Homo sapiens: one gene and its partners. The gene in region 3 interacts genetically with the main gene of each other region. Each region holds a gene or a part of one and is shown on either strand. Other genes may lie near its edges. The genes, in order: BNIP1, RBM17, BDP1, EIF3H, EMG1, MFAP1 and RPLP2.

Evidence for each region.
Region 1: changes in BDP1 (region 3) and BNIP1 together harm fitness less than expected from each alone (positive genetic interaction), as found in Homo sapiens cells (one large-scale study listed by BioGRID).
Region 2: changes in BDP1 (region 3) and RBM17 together harm fitness less than expected from each alone (positive genetic interaction), as found in Homo sapiens cells (one large-scale study listed by BioGRID).
Region 4: changes in BDP1 (region 3) and EIF3H together harm fitness less than expected from each alone (positive genetic interaction), as found in Homo sapiens cells (one large-scale study listed by BioGRID).
Region 5: changes in BDP1 (region 3) and EMG1 together harm fitness less than expected from each alone (positive genetic interaction), as found in Homo sapiens cells (one large-scale study listed by BioGRID).
Region 6: changes in BDP1 (region 3) and MFAP1 together harm fitness less than expected from each alone (positive genetic interaction), as found in Homo sapiens cells (one large-scale study listed by BioGRID).
Region 7: changes in BDP1 (region 3) and RPLP2 together harm fitness less than expected from each alone (positive genetic interaction), as found in Homo sapiens cells (one large-scale study listed by BioGRID).

Annotation. Positions count from the first base shown.
Region 1 is NC_000005.10:173,154,531-173,158,030, forward strand, and holds part of BNIP1 (vesicle transport protein SEC20), read left to right. Parts: intron 1-3,500. UniProt on the Homo sapiens protein: As part of a SNARE complex may be involved in endoplasmic reticulum membranes fusion and be required for the maintenance of endoplasmic reticulum organization. Also plays a role in apoptosis.
Region 2 is NC_000010.11:6,095,534-6,099,033, forward strand, and holds part of RBM17 (splicing factor 45), read left to right. Parts: intron 1-1,514; 5' UTR 1,515-1,532; coding exon 1,533-1,655; intron 1,656-3,500. UniProt on the Homo sapiens protein: Splice factor that binds to the single-stranded 3'AG at the exon/intron border and promotes its utilization in the second catalytic step. Involved in the regulation of alternative splicing and the utilization of cryptic splice sites.
Region 3 is NC_000005.10:71,507,651-71,511,150, forward strand, and holds part of BDP1 (transcription factor TFIIIB component B'' homolog), read left to right. Parts: intron 1-1,814; coding exon 1,815-3,500. UniProt on the Homo sapiens protein: General activator of RNA polymerase III transcription. Requires for transcription from all three types of polymerase III promoters. Requires for transcription of genes with internal promoter elements and with promoter elements upstream of the initiation site.
Region 4 is NC_000008.11:116,749,324-116,752,823, reverse strand, and holds part of EIF3H (eukaryotic translation initiation factor 3 subunit H), read left to right. Parts: intron 1-3,500.
Region 5 is NC_000012.12:6,977,175-6,980,436, forward strand, and holds the end of EMG1 (ribosomal RNA small subunit methyltransferase NEP1), read left to right. Parts: coding exon of another isoform or gene 1-88; 3' UTR 89-192; coding exon of another isoform or gene 193-351; 3' UTR 352-423; coding exon of another isoform or gene 424-571; 3' UTR 572-1,166; coding exon of another isoform or gene 1,167-1,333; 3' UTR 1,334-1,428; coding exon of another isoform or gene 1,429-1,515; 3' UTR 1,516-2,296; coding exon of another isoform or gene 2,297-2,405; 3' UTR 2,406-2,762; downstream 2,763-3,262. Other genes in the region: LPCAT3 (lysophospholipid acyltransferase 5), read right to left, coding at 1-88, 193-351, 424-571, 1,167-1,333, 1,429-1,515, 2,297-2,405. UniProt on the Homo sapiens protein: S-adenosyl-L-methionine-dependent pseudouridine N(1)-methyltransferase that methylates pseudouridine at position 1248 (Psi1248) in 18S rRNA.
Region 6 is NC_000015.10:43,818,191-43,821,690, reverse strand, and holds part of MFAP1 (microfibrillar-associated protein 1), read left to right. Parts: intron 1-3,500. UniProt on the Homo sapiens protein: Involved in pre-mRNA splicing as a component of the spliceosome.
Region 7 is NC_000011.10:808,653-812,766, forward strand, and holds the start of RPLP2 (large ribosomal subunit protein P2), read left to right. Parts: upstream 1-1,314; 5' UTR 1,315-1,387; intron 1,388-1,581; 5' UTR 1,582-1,582; coding exon 1,583-1,705; intron 1,706-2,944; coding exon 2,945-2,993; intron 2,994-3,028; exon of another isoform or gene 3,029-3,162; intron 3,163-3,882; coding exon 3,883-3,981; intron 3,982-4,107; coding exon 4,108-4,114. Other genes in the region: PIDD1 (p53-induced death domain-containing protein 1), read right to left, coding at 295-300. UniProt on the Homo sapiens protein: Plays an important role in the elongation step of protein synthesis.

The DNA of each region.
Region 1 (3,500 bases), about 100 Mb from region 3:
TTTTTTTTGAGAGACGGTGTCTCGCTCTATTGCCCAGGCTGGAGTGCAGTGGCCTGATCTTGGCTCACTGTGACCTCTGCCTCCCGAGTTCAAGCAATTCTTCTGCCTCAGCCTCCTGAGTAGCTGGGATTACAGGCGCCCACCATCACGCCTGGCTAATTTTTGTATTTTTACTAGAGACAGAGTTTCGCTGTGTTGGCCAGGCTGGTCTCTAACACTGGCCTCATGTGATTCACCCACCTTGGCTTCCCAAAGTGCTGGGATTACAGGTGTGAGCAACCACGCCCAGCCAATTGCATCAGTTACACACTGGTGGAATGTTCTCTCTCAGTCAGCAATAGTCAAGTGGGGGCGAGTGGGGAAGGGATAAATAGGGCCTATCTGAGCAGGTGGAGCTGAACATAGTTTACAAAAGCATATTTAACATTATACTGTATTGTATATTTTTAATCAAAAAATATGATTGCTTTTGTAATACAGGGTCATTTTTTATCTAAGGATAATTGGTACCAGAAAAAATCTACAGAAAGAAAACCTGCTGAAGGTGGACCAAAATTTAGAAGGTTTTGAGTGGGATGCTGTCTAAAAATAAAATAAAATAAAATGCAAGAAAAACCGTAAATTAAACAAAATTGAGGTCAAAAATTAAAACCAAAATCGAGGTTGTAATTGCAGGTGTGTGCTAATCCTTGATTATATAGTTACAGTTATATGCCATTTCTTGTTATTGAATTGGGAGAGGTTTAACTTTTCCAATGAAATTGTCAGACAACATGAAACAGTATCTTTCCCTTCACATTTGACTTTTGTACCAATCATAAAGAGGGTTTTTCCAAACATATTTGAGGTATTCAGATCATTCTCTCTCTTTTTTAAAAATACATTTTTGGCCCAGTGCGGCGGCTCACGCCTGGAATCCCAGCGCTTTGGGAGGCCGAGGTGGGCAGATCATGAGGTCAGGAGTTCGAGACCAGCTTGACCAACATGGTGAAACCCCTCTCTACTAAAAATACAAAAATTAGCCGGGTGTGGTGGCACACACCTGTAATCCCAGCTACTCGGGAGGCTGAGGCAGGAGAATCGCTTGAGCCCGGGAGGCAGAGGTTGCAGTGAGCCGAGATTGCTGCACTCCAGCCTGGGTGACAGAGTGAGACTCCACCTTAAAAACAAAAAAAAAATATTTTTATTTTTAAAAAATTAAAAAATTTTGGAAATGAGGTCCTTCTCTGTTGCCCAGTCTGGAGTACAGTCATAGCTTACTGCAGCCTCAGGAACTCCTGGGCTCAAGCGATCCTCTCACCTCAGCTTCCCAAGTAGTTGGGACTACAGCACACTCCACCGTGCCTGGCTAAATCATTCTCTTTTGAAACCCCTGCTAAGTTGTCATTCCCATGGGTTTTCTCTTTGTCTCTTGTTCACTGGTCTGCCTCTGCCAGATCTGTATTTGTGGCTTTGCTTCTGATTTGAGCAATTTGCCAGCATCATCTTCCCTGCAAGCAGCTGTGTATGTAACAGTCAGCTGTCAGGAAGACACCGACTGGCAAAAACACAGGCACAGGGAGGCCAGTGTAAGCAGGGAGGGCTGTATGAGTGGTGGGCAGTGATCCAGGGCTTGGCTATTTCACGAATACTTTATGTTATGATGGCTTTTGCTTTCCTGAGCCACCAAGCCTACTCAGATTATAAACACTGAGTACAGAGGAGCCCTTGTATAAAGTATGGTAAGTTATGCCAGACACACTCAGCTTAGCATGGGTTTAAAGCTGGGAATGGCCATCCACAATGTAGCATTACAGGCCAGAGCAGAGAAAGCTGTCAATTTATACTTTGGGGCTATGTGCAGTAGCTCACACCTATAATCCCAGCACTTCGGGGGCCGAGGCAGGAGGACTGCTTGAGCCCAGGAGTTTAAGACCATCCTGGGCAACAAAGCAAAACCTCATCTATTAAAAAAAAAAAAAATTAGCTGGGGGCATGCTGATGTGTGCCTGTAGTCTCAACTACTTGGGAGGCCAAGGCAGGAGGGCAGTGGGCTCGGGAGGTCAAGGCTGCAGTGAGCCGTGATCATGTGACTGCACCTGGCCTAGGAGACAGAACGAGACCCTGCCTCTTTTCTTTTGTTTTTTTTTTTTTTTGAGACAGAGTCTCACTCTGTCACCCAGGCTGGAGTGCAGTGGCGCAATCTCGGCTCACTGCAAGCTCCACCTCCCGGGTTCACGCCATTCTCCTGCCTCAGCCTCTCCGAGTAGCTGGGACTACAGGCACCCGCCACCACGCCTGGCTCATTTTTTATATTTTTAGTAGAGATGGGGTTTCTCCGTGTTAGCCAGGACGGTCTCGATCACCTGACCCTCATGATCCGCCGGTCTCAGCCTCCCAAAGTGCTGGGATTACAGGCGTGAGGCACCGTGCCCAGCCGACCCTGTCTCAAAAAAAAAACAAAAAAAACAAAAAAAACCAACTTTGGCAGTTGAAGCAGTAGTTGTGCTTGCTTGGGTCATCATGCTTGTCACACCATACAGTGAGTATCTGTTTGCTTGTCTTTTTCCCAAATGAATGTGAGGTGGTTGAGGAGAAGTACTGCCCCTCATTCATCTCTGGATCCCAGGGTCCTGCAGAACCCCCTTGCAAACTGTTTCAAAATGTAATGGATTCTTTAAAGTGGCAGGTGTGAAATGGCGGAGCAGGTGCTCATTAAGACCTTCAGCATAAAGGTGCTATTAGAAAACCACCCTGTCAGTTCATGTACTCTGTGTTTTGATTTTTGAGTATTTCCAGAGATTAGCACAATTGGTTTGAGCTGGCTACATAAGAGTTCTGAAGTATGAGTTTGATTCTTAGAGAGACGCAGTTAGCTTTTTTATAGTCTATCAACAACTGTCAACATTTCTTTTTTTTTTTGAGACGGAGTCTTACTCTCATTGCCCAGGCTGGAGTGCAGTGGCGTGATCTTGGCTCACTGCAACCTCTGCCTCCTAGATTCAAGTGATTTTCCTGCCTCAGACTCCCGAGTAGCTGGGATTACAGGCACTCGCCATCATGTCCAGCTAATTTTTGTATTTTTAGTAGAGACAGGGTTTTAACATGTTGGCCAGGCTGGTCTCGAACTCCTGACCTCAAGTGACCCACCCGCCTCGGCCTCTCAAAGTGTTGGGATTACAGATGTGAGCCACCACGCCCGGTCAACTGTCACATTTCTAACTCCAGGAAGCTGTTCACCAACTTTCCGTTATCACCCACAAGTTAGCGCAGGTGAAGACTGTAGATCCGCCGTGTCAGTCAGGGCTCTGCTAATCCATCATGTTTGTGTCATTCATGATTGGTCTGTAGTATGGAAAGAACAACAAACCTTGAAGAAATATTTTGAAAGATTGGCTTTTTGTGTGTGTGTGTGTGTTTTTTTTTTTTTTTCTTGAGAGAAGGTCTTACTCTGTCACCCAGGCTGGAGTATAGTGGTACTATCACGGCTCACTGCAACCTCCACTTCCCAGGCTCAGGTG
Region 2 (3,500 bases), on a different chromosome or scaffold from region 3:
TTCATTTGAGCAGTCGGCCATCAATACCCCTGGACAGTCTGCTTTCCCTGCTTCTCTACGGCCTTGCGGGGACCTTTCATTTAAAAATCAAAATGGAGAGGTTTTAGTTAATTTGAGGGTTCACGTATGAAGGAATGGAAGAAACTAAAAAGTGGTGACAGTTTTCTGGGGTGCTGACTTCAGGCAGGGAGTTACTGTACTTAAGACCAGGGCAGTTCTTCTGAGGGAACAGAAGTTGGTGTGCACTCCGTCCCCCACTCCACACAGTGTGGTACCAACATCAGCGAAGGTGTTGGGGCGGCAGGGTCTTAGAATCCCTGTAATGGGGGAGCTGAGAAGTAAGAGTACCTTCAAGAGAAATGCTTGCCGAATCAGACCTAAGGAGGGTATGTGTTAAATATTTTCCTCCTCTCCTGAGCCACAGAACACAAGCAAATTAGGCTTTTCAATAACACGGTTTCCATGGGAAAATGCTTTATGGGCCCCCTGGGAACTGACAGACTTATTTGTCCATAAACTGGGAACTACTGTGCTAAGCATTTACTTGCAATTTGTGGGTTTCTGTTTAAATTAAGTTCTCTTTCTGTCTGTGAGATTGATTTCTTATTTGAAGAAGTAAGCTATGTTGGTGGGTTTCAGAATGTTGATTTTTTTTTTAAAAAGTGGCAGTTGGGGTTCACTGGCGAGGGCTCTGGAGTTGGCCTGGCTGGGTTGGAAGGGGCTTCCGCTGTGGCCTTGGGCAGATTGATTCCCTAAACCCCAGCATCCATGTCTGTGCAGTGCTGGGCTTTCATGGGACCTGCTGCCGATGCTGCATTGCATGTCATGCTTTGCGCCTGCTGACTCGGTTTTTGTTTCCACGTGTTCCTCTGTTCTGCACGGAAGCTGTGTGTTGCTCGTTCACATGCAGATTGTTGATTGTCTCTTTGTAATCACTATCATTAAAGATGACAGATTTCCACTTGGTGTGATATGAGGAAATCAGAGTATTTAAGATGTAACCAGTCTACTCCCCCCTTGATAATTGTAATTGACAAAATCACATCTAAGAGATCATTTCTGTCATTTTTTTCCCTAGGAGTACGTTTAAATTTTTTCTTTATAAAAGGGTAGCTAATTGTGCTACATCAACCTGCTAATTGGTGTTTTTGTAAAGCTTCTACTTTTTGGCACTGACATAAATAGAATTTTTTAAAAATTGGATATATGTAATTAATAATGTTCCAATTCTTACCTCATTATGTGCCCTAGCATTGAAGGATTTCACTCATGGATCACTTGACTGCATGATCTTATAGATGGAAAAATGAATTTTAGAGGCTTATTTTAAAAATAATCCATGGTCTAGCTTCATGTATCAGGAATAGCCCTACATTAATGGTACCAGGAGCCTGGGCCTCTGTTGCTGAAAGGTCCTGGACCTTTTACCTCTAAAATTTCATGATACTTATTTTAACATGAAAAGCCTTTATTGAATTGTGCATTCTTTAATCCCCACCCCTTTTGCCTTTCAGCATTAAACTGAAGAAAAGATGTCCCTGTACGATGACCTAGGAGTGGAGACCAGTGACTCAAAAACAGAAGGCTGGTCCAAAAACTTCAAACTTCTGCAGTCTCAGCTTCAGGTGAAGAAGGCAGCTCTCACTCAGGCAAAGGTAAAGACAAGCCCAGAGCATGAGAGCAGAGGCCTCCAGAGTGGGTTCCTCATTAGGATGACAAGGAATTTGGTTTCAGCTTGCTCTTCTGCCTTTGTATTGGGTAAATGGTGTTAAGCATTTGTAGGGGGAGAGGAATGAGGAGTTTAAGGCCACTTTGCTACTCCTGGCTCCTGGGAATAGGAACATTTCGTGGGGTAGGAATGAAGAAAAACAGTACTCTGCGGGGGCTGGGCGCAGTGGCTCACGCCTGTAATCCCAGCATTTTGGGAGGCCAAGGCAGGCAGATCACGAGGTCAGGAGATCCAGACCATCCTGGCTAACAAGGTGAAACACCGCGGGCGCAGTGGTGGGCACCTGTACTGCCAGCTACTCGGGAGGCTGAGGCAGGAGAATGGCGTGAACCCGGGAGGCAGAGCTTGCAGTGAGCCGAGATCGCGCCACTGCGCTCCAGCCTGAGCGACAGAGCAAGACTCCGATTCAAAAACAAACAAACAAACAAACAAAAAAACAGTACTCTGAACCAGCAGTGACACTGCTTTTCAAACTTAAGTAGTGGAGGTCTAAGATTGAGTGAGAACTTGTTTAAGGTGCTAATTTTGTAGCCTTACTCCTGATATTCTGGTAAACTGTAGTTCAGGCTGGAGCCCCAGGAGTGGGAATTTTTAAGTAGCATTCCTACTGGTTTGGTGGAGGTAGTTTGGAAGCAGCACTTTGGGAAGAAGCTCCACAGAATACCTAAGCTGCTGCGTGCAACTTATTGAGGGCTCAGGTTGATTGTGAAGGCGTCAGGCATAGGTAGTCTGGATGCTGATTGCTTTTGTTTCTGTTGTGTACATGTTGGGTATTGGCAATGTCCTTGAAATAACATGTAAAACATTAAAAACCTAGTTGTCGACTGGATATTTGCCATTAAAATGTAGGCATGAGAATGGTATTATGGTTTGTTTACTACTTTAGAGATCTTTATGTTCTAGAGTATGCATTCGTAATGGAGGCTATATCCCCCCAAACAGAGCGAATATTGGTCTTTTTGGGGGTGAAAAAACCTTGCTCGTGTTGTGCACAGTGTATCTGTGGTGTGAAAATTTCATGTGCGGGAGAAAATTTAGTCAAAGGCTCCTTGCTGGGGAGGCAGTAATTAAAGTTGAGAAAAAGTACTTTAGAGATGTGTACTGAAATATTTACCGATAAGATGATGTCATTTTTGGGATTTACTTCTAAACAATTCAGTCCCGGGCAGGGGAGGGAGGGAAGAACAGAACTACCCATGAGTTGATAATTGTTGAAACTGGATGTGGATAGTAGAGACTTAAGAATTAATATTAATCTCTAATTTCATGTTTGAAAATTTCCGTAATACACAGGTTTTTTGTTTTTTTTTTTTTTTTTTTTTTTTTTTTTTGAGACGTAGTCTCACTTTGTAGCCCAGGCTGGAGCGCAGTGGCATGATCTCAGCTCACTGCAAGCTCCGCCTCCCAGGTTCACGCCATTCTCCTGTCTCAGCCTCCTGAGTAACTGGGACTACAGGCGCCCACCACTGCGCCTGCGGTGTTTCACCTTGTAAGCCAGGATGGTCTCGATTTCCTGACCTCGTGATCCGCCTGCCTTGGTCTCCCAAAGTGCTGGGATTACAGGCGTGAGCCACCGTGTCCGGCCAATACACAGGTTTTTTTTCTTAAAAGTTCTACTCATTTTTCTTTTCCCTTTACCACATCAATAGATACTTACATGGAAGTGCTTACATTTGATTGTTCAGTATTGTAGAGAGGTTTTTTTGTGTTTTTAAAATTCATCATTACCAAATTTAGATTTTTTGGATGCCAGTATTTTGTGTTTTTTTTA
Region 3 (3,500 bases):
AAGCTAGATGTTTCTGGATGGAGATGAAAAGTATCATAAATCAAAAAATGGAATGCGGTCCATTCAGGACTAATCAAATTAAATTTCCTTTATTGATTGCTGTTAATTTTACATTTAACGTTGTCAATTGCTAAAGTTAATGATGGATATAAACACTTCAGTTATGTAAACAAGTACAATTTGAAAAGCAATCTTATTCCTAAGGACCTGTCTTACAGTATCAAAAATTGCATTATTGAAAACAGTTATTTCAGTGAGGAAGGATAGTATAGGACCTAAAGAAGTTGAAACAAGCAATAGCATACTTTTGTTGTTTTGTTTTTGTTTCTGTTTGAGACAGAGTCTTACTCTGTTGCCCAGGTGGAGTGCAGTGGCATGATCTTGGCTCACTGCAACCTCCGCCCCCTGGGTTCCAGCTATTTTCCTGCTTTAGCCTCCCATGTAGCTGAGATTACAGGCGCGTGCCACCACGCCCTGCTAATTTTTGTATTTTGAGTAGAGACAGGGTTTCATCATGTTGGCCAGGCTGGTCTCAAACTCTTGACCTTAAGTGATCCACCTGTCTCAGCCTTCCAAAATGCTGGGATTACAGGCTGAGCCACCATGCCCAGCCTAGCATACTTTTAAGTAAATCTTTTGCTTATTTGTTTTGTTTTTTGTTTGTTTGTTTTGAGATGGGATCTTGCTCTCTTGCCCAATCTGGAGTGCAGTGGCATGATCATGGCTTACTGCAGCCTCATCCTTCCTGGGCTCAGGTGATCCTCCCACCTCAGCCTCCTGAATAGCTGGGACTACAGGTGCACGCCACCTCACTTGACTAATTTTTTTTTTTTTTGTAGAGATGGGATTTCTACCAAAAACTCATGGGCTCAAGCCATCTGCTTCAGCCTCCTGAAGTGCTAGGAGTACAGGCATGAAGCATCATGCCCAGCTCAATACGTCTTTTTTTAAGCTGTTGAATGTATAGTTATATACCTGTTCAGTCCGACATGGCCGAATACAATCTAGTGTTTCATTTGATCTAGCTTTTGCCCAATATTAATAACTTTTCCTAACCAGTCATTTAAAAGCCCTTTCATTCATTTATATGTTTATTGATTTTACCATCTATTATAATAAACAGAAAGCAAAACAAAAAGTGCTGCTGCTTTTCTGGAGAGCAAGGTGCTTGCTTTGGATAGTGGTTGTGTGCCCAGTAGCATTCAGCAAAGTATTATTGTGTATTTGGTCTGTCCTTTGATTCTTTACTTATGTTATGAAATAACAAGCCTTTAGAGAACTATCTGTATAGGAAATCTCATATAAAATTGGTTTTAAAAGGTGAGGAGGGCAGACCTCATTTGTAGTCCTAAGATTTAATCTTGGTCAAGTCATACTTGTATCCAGGTATTTGAGGTGGTCAGGTCTATTATGGCAAACCATTTGTCTGTATAAAAGATAGAAGGGATGAAGAGGTAGAAATAGCAGACATACATCAATCTAGCTCCAATGCAGAGAACTGGAGAGTCTTTCCCAGTCAGTATTTATAAATGGTAGTGTGAATGACAATTGGAAAGACACTGTTAGGATCAAATAGCTTCTATACTGATTGACCTTACTAGATATATATATATATTTAAACTTATTGCTGTGATTTCAAAAGGTGGGATTTTTTTTCTTTTAATTTTTAAATTTTACCCAGCGATTCCTAGGCCTTCCTTAATTTTTTTGAATTTGAGAGTTTCTGGTGTTTCTGTAGTGATTTCTCAAACATCATCTCTTCAGCAGGCAGTCTGGTTTAAAACTTGATTGTGTGCCCCCTTTTTTTTTTATAGCGTTCAAGAGAATAATAAGGCAAATAAACTTAACCAAGTCCCAATTCTAAGGACTCGATTTCAGAAACCAAAGCCAAATATAGGAAGAGGAACTGGAAGGAGAGAAATTTCCTCAAAGGAAGAGGTACTAGAGAAGATTCTTGTCTCTGGGGAAATGGCGGCAGCATTGAGAGAAACTGTAAGACTAGACACCTCACCAAAGGAGATGGTACCAGCAGAGATTAATACTAAAGAAATGCAGTCAGATTTAAAAGAAACTGGAAGAAGAGCCATTTCTCCCAGGGAGAAGATTCTAGATGTGATTGATGACACCATAGAAATGGAGACAGGTCTGAAAGCAATGGGAAGAGAGATTTGTCTAAGGGAGAAGACGCCAGAGGTGATTGATGCCACTGAGGAAATAGACAAAGATTTGGAAGAAGCTGGAAGAAGAGAAATATCCCCACAGAAAAATGGCCCAGAGGAGGTTAAGCCTCTAGGTGAAGTGGAGACAGATTTGAAAGCAACTGGAAATGAGAGTTCCCCAAGGGAGAAGACACCAGAGGTGACTGATGCCACTGAGGAAATAGACAAAAATTTGGAAGAAACTGGAAGAAGAAAAATATCCCCAAGGGAAAATGGCCCAGAGGAGGTCAAGCCTGTAGATGAAATGGAGACAGATTTGAACGCAACTGGAAGAGAGAGTTCTCCAAGGGAGAAGACACCAGAGGTGATTGATGCTACTGAGGAAATAGATTTGGAAGAAACTGAAAGAGAAGTATCCCCACAGGAAAATGGACTAGAGGAGGTCAAGCCTCTAGGTGAAATGGAGACGGATTTGAAAGCAACTGGAAGAGACAGTTTCCCAAGGGGGAAGACACCAGAGGTGATTGATGCCATTGAGGAAATAGAGATAGATTTGGAAGAAACTGAAAGAGAAATATCCCCACAGGAAAATGGCCTAGAGGAGGTTAAGCCTCTAGGTGAAATGCAAACAGATTTGAAAGCAACCGGAAGGGAGATTTCCCCAAGGGAGAAGACACCAGAGGTGATTGATGCCACTGAGGAAATAGACAAAGATCTGGAAGAAACTGGAAGAAGAGAAATATCCCCAGAGGAAAATGGCCCAGAGGAGGTCAAGCCTGTAGATGAAATGGAGACAGACTTGAAAACAACTGGAAGAGAGGGTTCCTCAAGGGAGAAGACACGAGAGGTGATTGATGCTGCTGAGGTAATAGAGACAGATTTGGAAGAAACTGAAAGAGAAATATCGCCACAGGAAAATGGCCCAGAGGAGGTCAAGCCTGTAGGTAAAATGGAGACAGATTTGAAAGAAATTAGAGAAGAAATTTCCCAAAGGGAAAAGGTGCTAGCAGAGTTCAGTGCTATAAGGGAAAAGGAGATTGATTTGAAAGAAACTGGAAAAAGAGACATTCCCATCATGGAGAAAGTATCAGGAAAGATGGCTGTTGTTGAAGAAATGGAGGCAGATTTGAAAGAAACTGGAAAAGAAAATTTTAGAGAGAGAGGATCTGAAGAGATCTGTGTTACTGAGGAAAAGGTGGCAGAATTGAAACAAACTGGAAAAACAGACATTTCTCCAAGGGAAAACGAGCTAGAGGAGACCAGTACCTCAAGACAAACTGACACACATTTAATGCAGAGCGGTAGCAATGACTTCAGTGCTGTGCCTTCACTAGATATTCA
Region 4 (3,500 bases), on a different chromosome or scaffold from region 3:
TTCCTTCCTTCCTTCCTTCCTTCCTTCCCTCCCTCCCTCCCTCCCTCCCTCCCTCCCTCCCTCCCTCCCTCTTTCTTTCTTTCTTTCTCTTCTTTCTTTCTTTCTTTCTTTCTTTCTTTCTTTCTTTCTTTCTTTCTTTCTTTCTTTCTTTCTTTCTTCATTTCTGTCTTGATGAACAGTGTTACTCTTAGGAAAGCAATATTACATACTAGCCAAGAGAATCTTGACGACAGACTTGGATTCAGATCCTTATTCCAGCAGTAAGCATGACCTTGGGGAAGTTATTAAATTTTCTAGGCCTCAGGTGTATCCTTTGTAAAATGGGGATGATGATAAAGTAGTAACTCATAAGGGTTGTGAGAATGAAATTCCGAGGTATTTAAAGTGTTTAGTATAGTACCTGTGTCATCGTAAACACTCAGATTACTGTGTCTTTACCACTCTCATCCTTATTAATGTTTCTCAAATCATTTCGAATGCTAACTTTGCTAATGTAGATTGGAATTGTAGAAAGAGCACTTCAGTGCTCCTGGTAATCAGGAGACATGCATTCCAGTCTGCATCCACCAGTAACTAACAACACTTCTATGATTGTTTTACTCCAAAGGTACATTTTCTCATCCACAAAATGATTGCCACTATCCCTATCAATTTTCATGGTTTATGGTTTCTTTCTTTTGCTTTCATACCTGAATCCTGAGGGTTCTTATTGGTGTGTGACCCCAGTCAATCACTATCCTTCCTTTTAGGCCACTTACTCCTTTCCTTTTATGTTTCTTCTCCATCTGTGCATATTGGAGTGCCTCATGGTTTAGGTTTTGGCTTTTCTTTTAGTCTCTGCTTGACATAGGTAGTGTAACGAAGTTGATAAAAGTACATGCTCTGGAGCCAGACTGCTTGGATTTGAATCCCAGCTCTGAAATTTGCTGCATGACATTGGGCAAGTCTTTGTGCCTCATTTTCCTCATCTGAATTGTTTTGAGACTTTAAATGGATTGAATATATGTCAATAACTAGAACAATGTCTGGGACAGAATAAGTCACCATTTAAGCTTTGCTGCTGCTTTATTTGCAGTAATTATAGTAGTATTCTTTAAGGTATTCTTATCTGTGCTCACGGCTTTAAATATTTATATTCTAATAAGTCCTAGATTTATATTTCTGCCAGTAATGGCTCTTGAATGCCTCTTTTGAATACCCATTGCCTGTTTGACGTCACTATTTGGATATCTCATAGGCATCTCATATTTAACATGTACAAAATAGAATTATAGACTTGTTCTTCTCCTTACTTTCCATCACAGCACCCTATATTTCTAGAATTTTCCACAGCCTGTAACTATCTTGTTTGTTTTCTTCTTTGTTTTCCTCATCAGAATGTATGCTACTGAGGGCAGGGACTATGCTTTTTCACCTGTTTTATCTCCAGTGCTGAACCTGTTAATTCACAAAGTAGGATAAATGAATGAGTATGTATTCCATTTTATTATTTATACTAATTTATGTTCTAATATCTTATGCAGGTTATTTTAATATTGTTTTCCCCTGCCTTCTTCAGTCTACCATTCATACTTTTATTTTATTTTATTTTATTTTATTTTATTTTTTTTTTGAGACGGAGTCTCGCTCTGTCGCCCAGGCTGGAGTGCAGTGGCGCAATCTCGGCTCACTGCAAGCTCCGCCTCCCGGGTTCACGCCATTCTCCTGCCTCAGCCTCCCAAGTAGCTGGGACTACAGGCGCCTGCCACTACGCCCGGCTAATTTTTTGTATTTTTAGTAGAGACGGGGTTTCACCGTTTTAGCCGGGATGGTCTCGATCTCCTGACCTCGTGATCCGCCCGCCTCGGCCTCCCAAAGTGCTGGGATTACAGGCGTGAGCCACCGTGCCCGGCCTCATACTTTTATTAAAACGTTTATTTAACGTGAACATTCAGATTTTAACTTCTTTCCTTAGATGTTTTCAGTGACTTTCCATTGAATTGAAGGACCAAAATGTTGTCCTTGTTTCTTGCATTTATGTTCAGGTTTATTTCCTTTCTTTCCAAGCTTTGTAGGAACTGTACATTCCAGCCCCTCAGACTACTTAGTTTTTTCTTTAATAAGTCATGCTAAAGGCCAGGTGTGGTGGCTCACGCCTGTAATCCCAGCACTTTGGGAGGCCAAGGCAGGCAGATCACACGAGGTCAGGAGATCAAGACCGTCCTGGCTAACATGGTGAAACCCTGTCTCTACTAAAAATACAAAAAATTAGTCGGGCGTGGTGGCGGGTGCCTGTAGTCCCAGCTACTCAGGAGGCTGAGGCAGGGGAATGGCATGAACCGGGGAGGCGGAGCTTGCAGTGAGCCGAGATTGCACCACTGCACTCCAGATTGGGCGACAGAGCGAGACTCCGTCTCAGAAAAAAAAAAAAAAAAAAAAAAGTCATGCTAAAGACAGACCTAGAGTCACATCCTTATTCAAAGCAGTAAGCATGACCTTGCTTTTGTTCATGAAGTTCTTTCTCTTTGAAATTGTTCTCTTTCATCATCACATATTGAATAAAAAATGTGACTTAATCGACTTACTCTGTTTTTTTAAAAATTCTCCATATAGTTTAACTTGAATCTGTATACTCCAGATGTATTCTGTTCTTCATTCATTTAACAAATATTTATTGATTGCCGACCACATGCCAGGTCTAGCCCTGCTACATGCTGGGGTATATTGCAGTAACCTATATAAGATATTATATAGGTGAGCAAGGTAGAACCCAGTCCCGACTCTCATGACCATTCTCAGTCATATATAGATGTAGATGAACCCAGAGATTAATCTCATCCTATGTTTAGCCTGATGTTTTAACACATTTGTTCCTTCCTGGCACATTGATAGTGGCCAAGACCAATTTTTCTTGTATTTTTGAACCCTTCCTTTCCTACCTTTAGACCTGTTTCATCACTTCCTCTGTATCTGTAATGTAGCAGTCCCTCCACAGGGCTTGTTTTCCAAAGAAAAGTAAGCCCTCCACAGGGCTTGTTTTCCAAAGAAAAGTATCATTTGGAGGAGCAAAGTTATAAGCCTACCTAAGCATGTCGTAAAGCTGTTCAAAAATAACTCAGAGCTAGTCTTGTGGATGGAAATGTAGTGCCTGAGTCACATTCTGCTTAAAGTTGTAACAAATACAGATGAGTTAAAAGAAAAAAAACAAAAATAAAGAAAGAATGGGTCTTCATTCTGTCAGGTGGTCTCATTGTTCCTAGACAAGATCAAGCTAATTCTTCCCGTTAAACTTTTCATGTTGAACCCACTTTGTTCCCTAGAACATTTGAATTTTACCTTTCTTATGTTCATTAGACCTTGCTATTCAAAGTATGATCCATGTCCAGTAAGATGAGCAATGTTGGCTACACTTGAGTTTGTTAGAAATGCAGACATACGTATCACAGAATCTCAGGCCCCTCTCCTGACCTACACAATCAGGTGATTTATAGCATTTTACTGTTTGAGAAGAAGCTTGCTCT
Region 5 (3,262 bases), on a different chromosome or scaffold from region 3:
TTGGCACCATTGCTTTGTGAATATAAGGCAATATGAATAGTAGGCTCAGGAAGAAGATGTGGCCAAGGAAATAGATGGATTTATACACCTGTGGAGAGAGAGGCCACTAAGGTAGACAGGCCTGGAGTGTCCTTTGCAACCTTTGAGGTTGCAGTGAGTCCCTCCCAGTCTCACAAGCAGGCCTTCACTTGCCTTAAGCCATTTGTCCCACGTGAAGAGGCAGAAGGCAGTCATGGAGTAACCCATGAAGAGCCAGTGGATGGTCTGTTGCACCAAATAGTAGAAGGGCTGGAGGACAGTAATGGCGGCCAGCTTGCTCAGGGTGGGGCTCTCTTGAATGAGCCTGGCAGCCTGGGGAGGGAGGAGGAGCTCATCAGCATCTTGTCCCTTATATTCCCCTTCACCCCCACCCTGGAGGCCTACCTGTCTTTCCACAATAACAATGAGGAATTCCATCTGGAAGCAGACCAGGTATCCTGAGTGCAGGCCGTGCCAGAGGGCCAGGAATAGCAACGAGAGACCCTGAGAGAGTTCTTTATTTCCAAGGAACTTGAGTCGTTTGAAGATGTAGCTGGAGAAAAGGGTGGGTGGGGCGACCCTCAAACTGACTGGTCCTTGCATCCCGCCACCTGCCTCTGGGTCCTCACCCTGAGGATTGGATTGGAGTGCTGGTGGGTTCCCACGTGTAGCCCCCAGAGGGTACAGGAGGCAGTGCTGACTGATTACTTTTAGAGATGGAAAGCAGACCCAAGGCGGAGCTGGAGACCGTGTGCGCACGAGCCACTTGGTTCAGCAGCAGTGACTGAGGCTGATGCTGAGATCAGTGGTGAACCAGACACTCTACTCAAGCTGCCCACACTCTAGTGGTGGGGACAAACAAGTAAAGCTGTTGATAAACAGGGCAGTGGAGGACATAAGTCCATTGGCAGAGCTGGAGTAACACCCAGGTCTTAACGCACTTTTATATCTTGCCTTTTTTTCAAATATGACAGTAATGGTTTTTTTGGGAGGGGGGTATAGGTGGGGGTCAAAGTCAGTGTGAGCGACAGGGGGTTCTGCCCAGATGGGAAAGACGCATAGGGGTGACATGGTACACCCCTGCCCTCCAATCTGGGAAGACAGTGGAAGGAAGGAACCAGGGTCCAGGCTCCCCACCAGCAGCTCACCGGGCCACCCAGGCGTTGGTGTTGATGTTGAATGAGGCAATGGTGCCAGTGAAGCGGGGGTTTGTTTCAAAGAGCCACACCTTCATGTTGGCACAGGCATCCCACTTTGCCTTGCCCTTTTCTTCAAAGCCATTGAAGCCCAGGCCCGTCAAAATGCATACTCCTTCCTGAGAGGGAATAGCTCAGTTAGGGCTCTTGCCACTCCCCATACTGGCCCCCATGGCTTGTCTAAATAGGACCTTGTTTCAACTTTTCTACTTACTGTGACCAGCCAACAGGTGACATATTTGTACAGCACAAACTTGCCCCAGATCAGCATGTACATGCAGCGGAACCAGAAGGGGTGGTTCTTGAGGGAAGAAAGCACAGTGCATTAGGGATATCACATGACTAGGCAGTTTCTCTCAGCACTCTTCCTTTTCACACTTGTGGCTGGCTACTTCATACCTGCCTGAGTCCTGCTGCCAGATGCCCTCAATAGTCTGGCCTGATTGCCTTCACAATAGGCAGAGAGGAATAAGCAGAGGGCCTGGAGAATATTCATTCGCCTTTCCCTTGGAGAGCCTCAAGGGCAGCACTGTATTTAACTTCTCTACTGTTTGCCTTCGTTGGCAAAGTGTTTGGAATGAGCATTTGGAATGTTAAGTACAGAGGGGCCCATATTGGATTTTAATTTAAGGAGAGAAACCTGCCCAGAATTACTGAACTGTTTTCAAGCCTTTCAGCTGGGCAGGAGCAAAAGCCAGCACTTCCCCCCTTCCCTTGGTTTCTGAATTCCCTAGAAGTGCCCAAATGTATCAGTCAAGAGAAGAAAATAGGATGGAGAATCAGAAGCTGCTGTGCTCTGAGGGGTCACGTGGATGTGATAAGGCAAGCTAGGAGCGGCTCCTAGAGAAGGCAACGGGTGCTAAATGTGCACCTGGCACAGCCCTGTGCCCGCGAAGGTTGTTCAGTGCTGGCTGATGAACATGTCCCAGCACGGCTGGCATTGACAACTCACAGATCTAGAGCAAAACCAACATGCACTTGTAGATGATATTTCCTACTTCTCTGCTATCTGTAGGGATCCTTGCCTGTCCATTTTCTAGCTCTGGTGCAGTCATGCTGCTGCTGCTTTAGTAGACACTCACGTCATAGTCTTCAGTGAGGAGATAGTCTTCTGTGATGTGGGGGCTGAGCAGTGTGTAGCCCACTAGGTAGAAAAGGCCCAGACTCAGGCGCTTGAGAGCAGGAATGATGCTGGAAAGGAACGAGTGAAGTTCCTGGTCACAGAGAGCAGAGACTATTCCCTTCACCCTCTGACCTTCAGTTATGGAGAGGAGTGTTTAGGGGTGTGGTTGTCTACCTGGAATGGGATGAGAAGCTCTGCTGCCCAAAGTGTTTCCTGTTTCAGGGAAAGATTTCTATGGCTGGCTATGAGGAATGGGGACTGCAAACCTCTTAAGAGTTGTAGGAAAGTCAGGGCAGCAGACAGTGGACCAGTCTTGTGTTTACCCCTCAGGGATGCTACTGATCTCAAGGTCTTGCCAGGTCTCACAATCTCCATTGGGACTGAAAACCCAGTGGAGGTAAGATAATAAAAATAACCACTTTGAATCTGCTCCTTCATTTCTTGGTTGAATTGATGCTGAAACACAGGATGGACAAGTTCTCAGTGAAGGAATTCTTCTGGCAATTAAACTTTTTTTTTTTTTTTTTTTTTACCATTTTAATTTTTATTTTCTAGAGTCAGGGCCTTGCTCTGCCACTCCGGCTAGAGTACAGAGGCATAGTCATTGCTCGCTGTGGCCTTGAACTCCTGGGCTCAAGCGATCCCCTTGCCTTGGCCACCTGAGTAGCTGGGACTATAGGCATGTACCACCTTGCCTGGATAATTTTTTTTTGTAGAGATGGGGTCTCACTATGTTGCCCAGGCTGGTCTTGAACTCCTGGCCTCCAGTGATCCTCCTGCCTTGGCCTCCCAGAGCGTTGGCATTACAGGCATGAGCCACTGTGCCCTCCTGCATTTCCTACTGATAAATATTTTTGAGACAGGATTTTGCTATGTTGCCCAGAATGGAGTGCAGTGGTGTGATCAAAGCTCACTGCAGCCTTGA
Region 6 (3,500 bases), on a different chromosome or scaffold from region 3:
CGTCTTTAATCCATCTGGAATTTTTGTGTCTGTGGTGGAAGTTAGAGGTCTAATTTTACTATATGGTTGGCCAATTGTCCCTTCTCACCCCATCCATTTTCTACTGATTTTTAATGCCATCCCTATAATATACTCGAGTTCTCATATAAGTTTGTTTTTCTTTTCTCTGTTACATTGATCTCTGTGTACTTCCTGGGTCACTGACATATCTGGTAAACTATGCCCCACCCCTCCTTCCCCGCCCCCATCAGCTTTATTCTTCTTCAGCATTGTCTTGGCATTTTGGGGCCTCCTGTTCTTCCATATGATTTTGGAATAAGCCTGGAGACAACTTTTAATGGAATTGCATTAAAATGATAGATTATACATTTATAGGTTAATTCAGGTGCAGTTGCCATCTTCTCATCCTTGAACATGAAATATTTCTCTATTTACATCTTTTTTATCTTTCAATAAAATTACATATTTTTCCTCCTAAAAGCCTTGTACATTGTTTGTTGGATTTATTCCACAGTATCTTATAGATTACTTGTGACCGTTAATGGTATTTTAAAACTATATTTTCTTCAGCCTGGGCAACATAGCGAGACCCCAAAAAATACAGTGCTCTACAAAAAAACAAAATTACCTGGGTGGTACCTGTCTGTAGTCCCAGCTACTGAGAGGCTGAAGAGGGAGGCTCACTTTAGCCCAGGAGGTTGAGACTGCAGTGAGCTGTGATCATGCCACTGCACACCAGCCTGGGTAACAGAATGAGACCCTTTCTCAAACAGTAGAAAATAAGCCAGGCATGGTGGCTCACGCCTGTAATCCCAGCACTTTGGGAGGCCCTAGGCAAGAGGATCACTTGAGTCCAGGAGTTCAAGACCAGCATGGGCAGCATAGTGAGACCTCGTCTGTACAAAAAAATTTTAAAAATTAGACCGGCATGGTGTTGCACGCCTGTAGTCCCAGCTACTTGGGAGGCTGAGGCAGGAGAATGGTTTGAGCCTAGGAGGCTGACGCTGCGGTGAGCCATGATTGCGCCACCGCACTCCACCCTAGGCAACAGAGTGAGACCCTGTCTCAAGAAAATAAATAAAAATAAAATTGTACTTTCTAATTATATGTAGCTAATGTACAGGTATGCTTATTTTTATAAATAAGTTTTTTATCTAGCATTTTTTCTGAACTCTTTTATCTATTTGTTATCTTGTGTTTTCTACAAAGACAACCATATAATCTGCAAATTATGGCAGTTTCTTCCTTTTAAATCCTTATAACTTTTCCTTATTGCCCAAATTAGAACCATAATACAGTGTTGACTAGAAGGTGTGATAGGTACAACATTAGGATGCTCACTGGTTTTTTTTGTTGTTGTTGTTTGTTTTTTTTGAGATGGAGTCTTACCCTGTCGCCTAGGCTGGAGTGCAGTGGCGCGATCTCGGCTCACTGCAAGCTCCGCCCCTGGGTTCACACCATTCTCCTGCCTCAGCCTCTTGAGTAGCTGGGACTACAGGTGCGTGCCACCACACCCGGCTAATTTTTTGGTTTTTTGTTTTTTTGAGACGGAGTCTCGCTCTCTTGCCCAAGCTGGAGTGCAGTGGTGCTATCTCGCTCACTGCAAGCTCTGTGTCCCGGGTTCACGCCATTCTCCTGCCTCAGCCTCCCAAGTAGCTGGGACTACAGGCACTCGCCACCATGCCTGGCTAATTTTTTTGTCTTTTTAGTGGAGATGGGGTTTCACTGTGTTAGCCAGGATGTTCTCAATTTCCTGACGTTGTGATCCGTCCGCCTTGGCCTCCCAGAGTGCTGGGATTACAGGCGTGAGCCACCACACCCAGCTGGATGCCCACTGATTTTTAAAGAGAATGCTTCTGGCCAGTCACAGTGGCTCACACCTGAAATCCCAGCACTTTATGATACTGAGGCTGGCAGATCACCTGAGGTCAGGAGTTCAAGACCAGCCTGGCCTACATGTTGAAACCCTGTCTTTACTAAAAAATACACAAATTAGCCAGGCATGGTGGTGGGCACCTGTAATCCCAGCTACTCAGGAGCCTGAGGCAGGGAGAATTGCTTGAACCCAGGGGGCGGAGGTTGCAGTGAGCGGAGATCATGCCACTGCACTGCAGCCTGGGCAACAGAGCGAGACTCCATCTCAAAAAAAATAAATAAATAAATAAATAGAATGTTTCTATTGTTTTATCATTAAGTATAAAGTCTGCTGTATCTATTATTTTTTAAAAATGTGACTTTAAAAAATAGTAGGCTAGGAGAGATGGCTCACACCTGTAATCCTAGCACTTTGGGAGACTGAGGCTGGAGGATCACTTGAGGCCAGGAGTCCAAGGCCAGCTTGGGCAACATAGCAAGACCCTTTCTCTACCTTTTAAAAAATAACAAACAAAAATAAAATTTTAAAAAGTAAAAATAGTATATTGCTTCCCTCCCATTGTTCATCTATCTATCTATGTACATTTTTTTTTGGAATTTTGTTTTGTTTTGTTTTGTTTTTAAAGACAGAGTCTTACTGTGTTGCCCAGGCTGGAGTGCAGTAGCACGATCTCAGCTCACTGCAACCTCCACCTTCCAGGTTCAAGTTATTCTCCTGCCTCAGCCACCTGAGTAGCTTGGATTAAAAAGTCTGTGCCACCATGTCTGGCTAATTTTTGTATTTTTAGTAGAGACGGAGTTTTGCCATGTTGGGCAGGCTGGTCTCGAACTCCTAGCCTCAACTGATCTGCCCACCTTGGCTTTCCAAAGTGCTGGGATTACAAGCATGAGCCACTGTGCCCAGCTATATATATTTTTGTGTTTGACACAGGGTCTCACTCTATCACTCAGGCTAAAGTGAGTGCCTTGGTGTGGTCATGGCTTGCCGCAGCCTCAACCTCCTGGGCTCCAGTGATTCTCCCACCTCAGCCTCCCATGTAGCTTGGGACCACAGGCATATACCACTATGTCCGGGTAATTTTTTTTGTTTTTAGTAGAGATGAGGTCTAAACCCAGGCTGGTCTCGAACTCCTGGGTTTAAGCAATCCTCCTGCCTCAACCTTCCAAAATGCTGCGATTATAGGCATGAGCCACTGCACCTGGCCCCCTCATTAATTTTCTAAGGTCAAACTATCCTTCTAGTCTTGGGCTAAATTCTAATAAGTTGTGTTGGTCTAGGGGTTTTTTTTTTTTGTTTCTTTTTTTTTTTTTGGTAGTTTTTATATTGCTGGGATAAATTTGCTCTTACGTTATTTAGTATTTTTGTATTTGTGTTTGTAAGTGAAATCCACCTAAAGTTTTCCTTTGAACTGTCCAATTTGGTTATCAAGGTTATACTCATAAAATAAGTTGGTTAGTTTTCACTGTCTTTGTTCACTAGAATTGTTTGTATTTGTAGGCTGGGTGCTGTGGCTCACGCCTGTAATCCCAGCACTTTGGGAGGCTGAGGTGGGCGGATCATGAGGTCAGGAGATCGAGACCATCATGGCTAATACGGTGAAACCCCATCTCTACTAAAAATACAA
Region 7 (4,114 bases), on a different chromosome or scaffold from region 3:
GCCACTGCACTCCAGGCTGGGCGACAGAATGGGGCCCAGTCTCAAAAATTACAAAATAAGAAAAGTCCCATTGTTCCCAAGATGGTTTCCCGCCTTTACCCCAGATGTGTGACCCTGAGCAAAAAAACCTTTCTGTACCCAACTGCCTCATCTATAAAATGGGGGTAATGATAACGAGGCCACAGAAGGCGACTGTGAAGTCGAGTTCCAGTGCTTGACGTATACACACCCCAGGGTTTGCACTGCTGTTAGAGCCCAACGGGAGCTGGCGCTGCCTGCTAACACGGTAGATACCTGCATCTGACCCTGTTCCTGGTGCTCGCCCGGGATATTGGCAGGGATGGCTCCTTCTCATCTCTCAGCTCAAGCTTTCTCAGGCTGCCCAGAGGACCAAGTCTCCCTCTGTCCCTGTCCTTCGGATCGCCTCCCTATTCACCTCCTGCGTCCTCGCACAAGAACTCAAGTCCTTAGGAGGCAGGGCCAACCCTGTTCCCTCCCAGGACCCGAGAATGTAGCGGGGTCCCTGAGGTGCTGATGTCCACATGGACACCGAGGTCAGTTCCGGGCCAAAGCGGCCAGCGCAGGGGCTGACCACTCAGACCTCACTCCTCGCAGGGGTGAGCGGGCGACGCTGCCTCACGTCATTGTCCTGCCCTCCAAGGCCCGCGCTCGTCCTCTGACAGGATGCCCTGACACCGCAGTGCGGGGGCGGCCTCCCAGATAGGGCCGCAGTCGCTAAGTCCGAGGCGGCTGGCTCACCTCACTGAGCCCGGCTGGACGTGGGACCACCGGTCGCCGCGGCCAGGGAACCACCAAGGAGTCAAGGCGAGCCTACCGCCAGCAGCTTCTGCCCGGGCCCACGCGCCGTTCCGGGTAGGCCCGCGGCGCAGGCCACTTCCGGCAGCGGTGCACCATGGGACTTGCAGTTCGCTGGCAAAGGTTGAGTCCCGGGCGTGGCGGCCGCGCTCCATGTTGGGAGCTGTAGGCGCCGCGTGGCATGCTGGGGGTGCTAGGTACCGAAGGCAGATGCCGTCCCTTTGGACTCGCTTCGTCCAACGCCCCCACGAGTTTCGGTGGCCCTTCGCCCCACGCTATAAGAGCAGTCACTTCCGGAACTGCTGCCCTTCGCCTTTGCCGCGAAAAGTGCCTGACGGGGGCTGGGAAGGGGGAGGGGGAAGGAGTCAACGACTCCCTCCCCGTCGTCATTGGCTGAGCGCCTCGTGACGTCACTCTGAGGCGCCTCATGCGGCGCCGCGCACGGGTCCCAGAGCCTTCTGGGTAGCGGTTTAACCCCGCCTCTTGCGTCGGCGCCTTCCTTTTCCTCCCTGTCGCCACCGAGGTCGCACGCGTGAGACTTCTCCGCCGCCTCCGCCGCAGACGCCGCCGCGTGAGTGTGGTGACCGGGCCCGGGGTGCCGGCTGGGGACGCGGAGTCCGTGGGGATGCGGGGTGGGCGGCGGGGTATTTTTGGGACGGAGGCCTACGGGCCGAGCCACGCGCGGCCTCGCCCGGCGGCCCCGGGATGGGCCGGCAGGAGGCCGCCGGGGTAACTCCGCCGTCGCGTCCTCTCCGCCCGCCTCAGGATGCGCTACGTCGCCTCCTACCTGCTGGCTGCCCTAGGGGGCAACTCCTCCCCCAGCGCCAAGGACATCAAGAAGATCTTGGACAGCGTGGGTATCGAGGCGGACGACGACCGGCTCAACAAGGTAGCGGCCGCCCTTGCCCCGCAGCCGCCGTGGGGCCCCAGTGTCCCATACAGGCGATTCTTCTGCCTGATCCGGCCACATGCTGGAGGGTTCGGGGAGAGGCTCGTTTCAGTCTAGTTGGCGATTTCTTGGATAGAGAAGTAAGCCGGGCGGAGGTCGGGCGCGGTGGCTCACGCCTGTAGTCCCAGTACTTTGGGAGGACGAGGCAGGCGGATCACCTGAGGTCAGGGGTTCGAGACCAGCCTGGTAAACATGTCGAAACCCCATCCCTACTAAAAATACAAAAATTAGCCGGGCGTGGTGGTGGGTGCCTGTAGTCCCCCTACTTGGGAGGCTGAGGCAGGAAAATCGCTCGAACCCGGGAGATGGAGGTTGCACGGATCGTGCCACTGTACTCCAGTCTGGGTGGCAGAAGGAGACCCTGTCTCAAAAGGAAAAAAAAAAAAAAAAGCAGGGTGGGTACGAGGCAAAATCGTGATTAACAAGCTTTGGAAGTTTAATACCAGTGAGCTGCGTAAGATTGCGTTAAAAAAAAAAAAAAGCAGTCCTGGCGCATGGCTCACCCGGCTTTGGGAGGCCATGGCGAGTGGATTATTGGAGCCTTGAAGTTCGAGACTGGTCTGGAAAACATTGCAAGACCCGGTCTCCACAAAAAAAAAAAAAAAAAAAAATGGTTGGAGGCAGTGGTGCACATCTGTAGTCTCAGCTACTCATGAGGCTGATGCGGGAGAATCATTTGAGCCTTAGAGGTCAAGGCTGCACTGAGTAGTGATTGTGCCACTGCAGTCTAACAGAACCAGGCCTCGTCTCTAAAATACAATAAAAAATTAGCCAGGCTTGGTTGCTCATGCCTGTAGTCCCAGACTGAGGTGGGATAGTCACTTGAGCCCGGGAGGTCAAGGCTGCAGTGAGATCCTACCACTGCACTCCAGCCTGAAGTCAAAGTCAATTTCATTGCCAGTTTATTTTGCCAGTGTTGAAGATACCTATGAGTAGTCAACATAAGTAGTGAGATGCCCTGTGTCCTTTTGTCAGTCCTAAGTCTAAGAAAGCTAGTGTCCATTTATTTTTATATCACTTCCCAAGTGAGGCTGGTGGCTCCCTTTGGGCAGTGCAGTTCTGGAAACTTCAGGGCCTATTCCCATGTGGGGAACCCAGTCCTGCTGTGACTCTGGGAGGGAGAGGGCCGGGGATACAATCGTACATTCCTGGTAACAGCCCTGTGATTGTCTGCTTCAGGTTATCAGTGAGCTGAATGGAAAAAACATTGAAGACGTCATTGCCCAGGGTGAGTTGATGTGGACGGGCTTTCGTTTGTTTTCATGGTCCATCCTAATCCCTGCCGGTCCATCTGTGGCCTGCCAGGTTTCGCTTGTGGACCAGAGCACCCTAGAAGCCTCACCCGAGGAGTGAGCAGGGCTCCAGTGGGCTCACGTCATGGGCACTTCTAGACACTCTCAGGAGCAGGGCAGCAGGGGGCACCCTGTGTTCTCAGCAGACGTTTAGGTGGCCCTGCCTCTTAAGCCTGACTGCTCCTAGCCCTGAGGCCATTCCCCAGGATTTGTCTGAAGCTTGGTGTCTGGAGAACTGAGTTCACGTCAGCAGTCCTTACCACATGCTTTCTGTGAGGGGGTTGGGGGCAGGGACTGAGGGTGCCAGGGATGTCCATAGGCTCCTTGCCTCTTTGTTGGGCAGATGGTTTTTTGTTGGCTTCAGCTGAGCTGGTGGAACTTGTTTGGAAGTTGAGCTGTTGGGGCAGCTGTTCTTGTCTTCCATGCATGTGACCACGACAGGGCCAGCTCAGCAAACGGGCCAAGCCATGAACACAGCGTTGTGGCCAGAGATGTGGATACTGGGGCAGCACACTCATTCCCTACCTAGTTATGAACATGTCTGTCCAGTGGACCTCTGAGGGTGGAGGTGGGGAAATTGGGCAGGCAGGCAGTGTGGGCCTAATTCCTAGAAGGCAAGTCCCTGGATAGGAAAGGTGGGGAAGAGAAGTCCCCGTTGAGGAGTGGCTCAGGGAGGGAGTGTTCAGGAAGAACGGGAGACACTGGCATATGGTGGGTCCAGATATGTTGGGTGCCATGTGCCATCTCTGGTGCCATCTAACTTCCCTGTGGAACAGCCTCCCAGGCTGGGCAGCTGCTCTGGTCTCACCTCTCTGCTTTCTGTAGGTATTGGCAAGCTTGCCAGTGTACCTGCTGGTGGGGCTGTAGCCGTCTCTGCTGCCCCAGGCTCTGCAGCCCCTGCTGCTGGTTCTGCCCCTGCTGCAGGTAAGTGGTGGCCTGGTGAGTGGGCAAGGGGCTGGGGCTCAGACGGTGTTGCTGCAGTGGGGTCTTCATGGGGGGACTGGCCTGGCACTTGGGCAGTGCTCACCATGCCTCTCCTCTGTTCCACAGCAGAGGA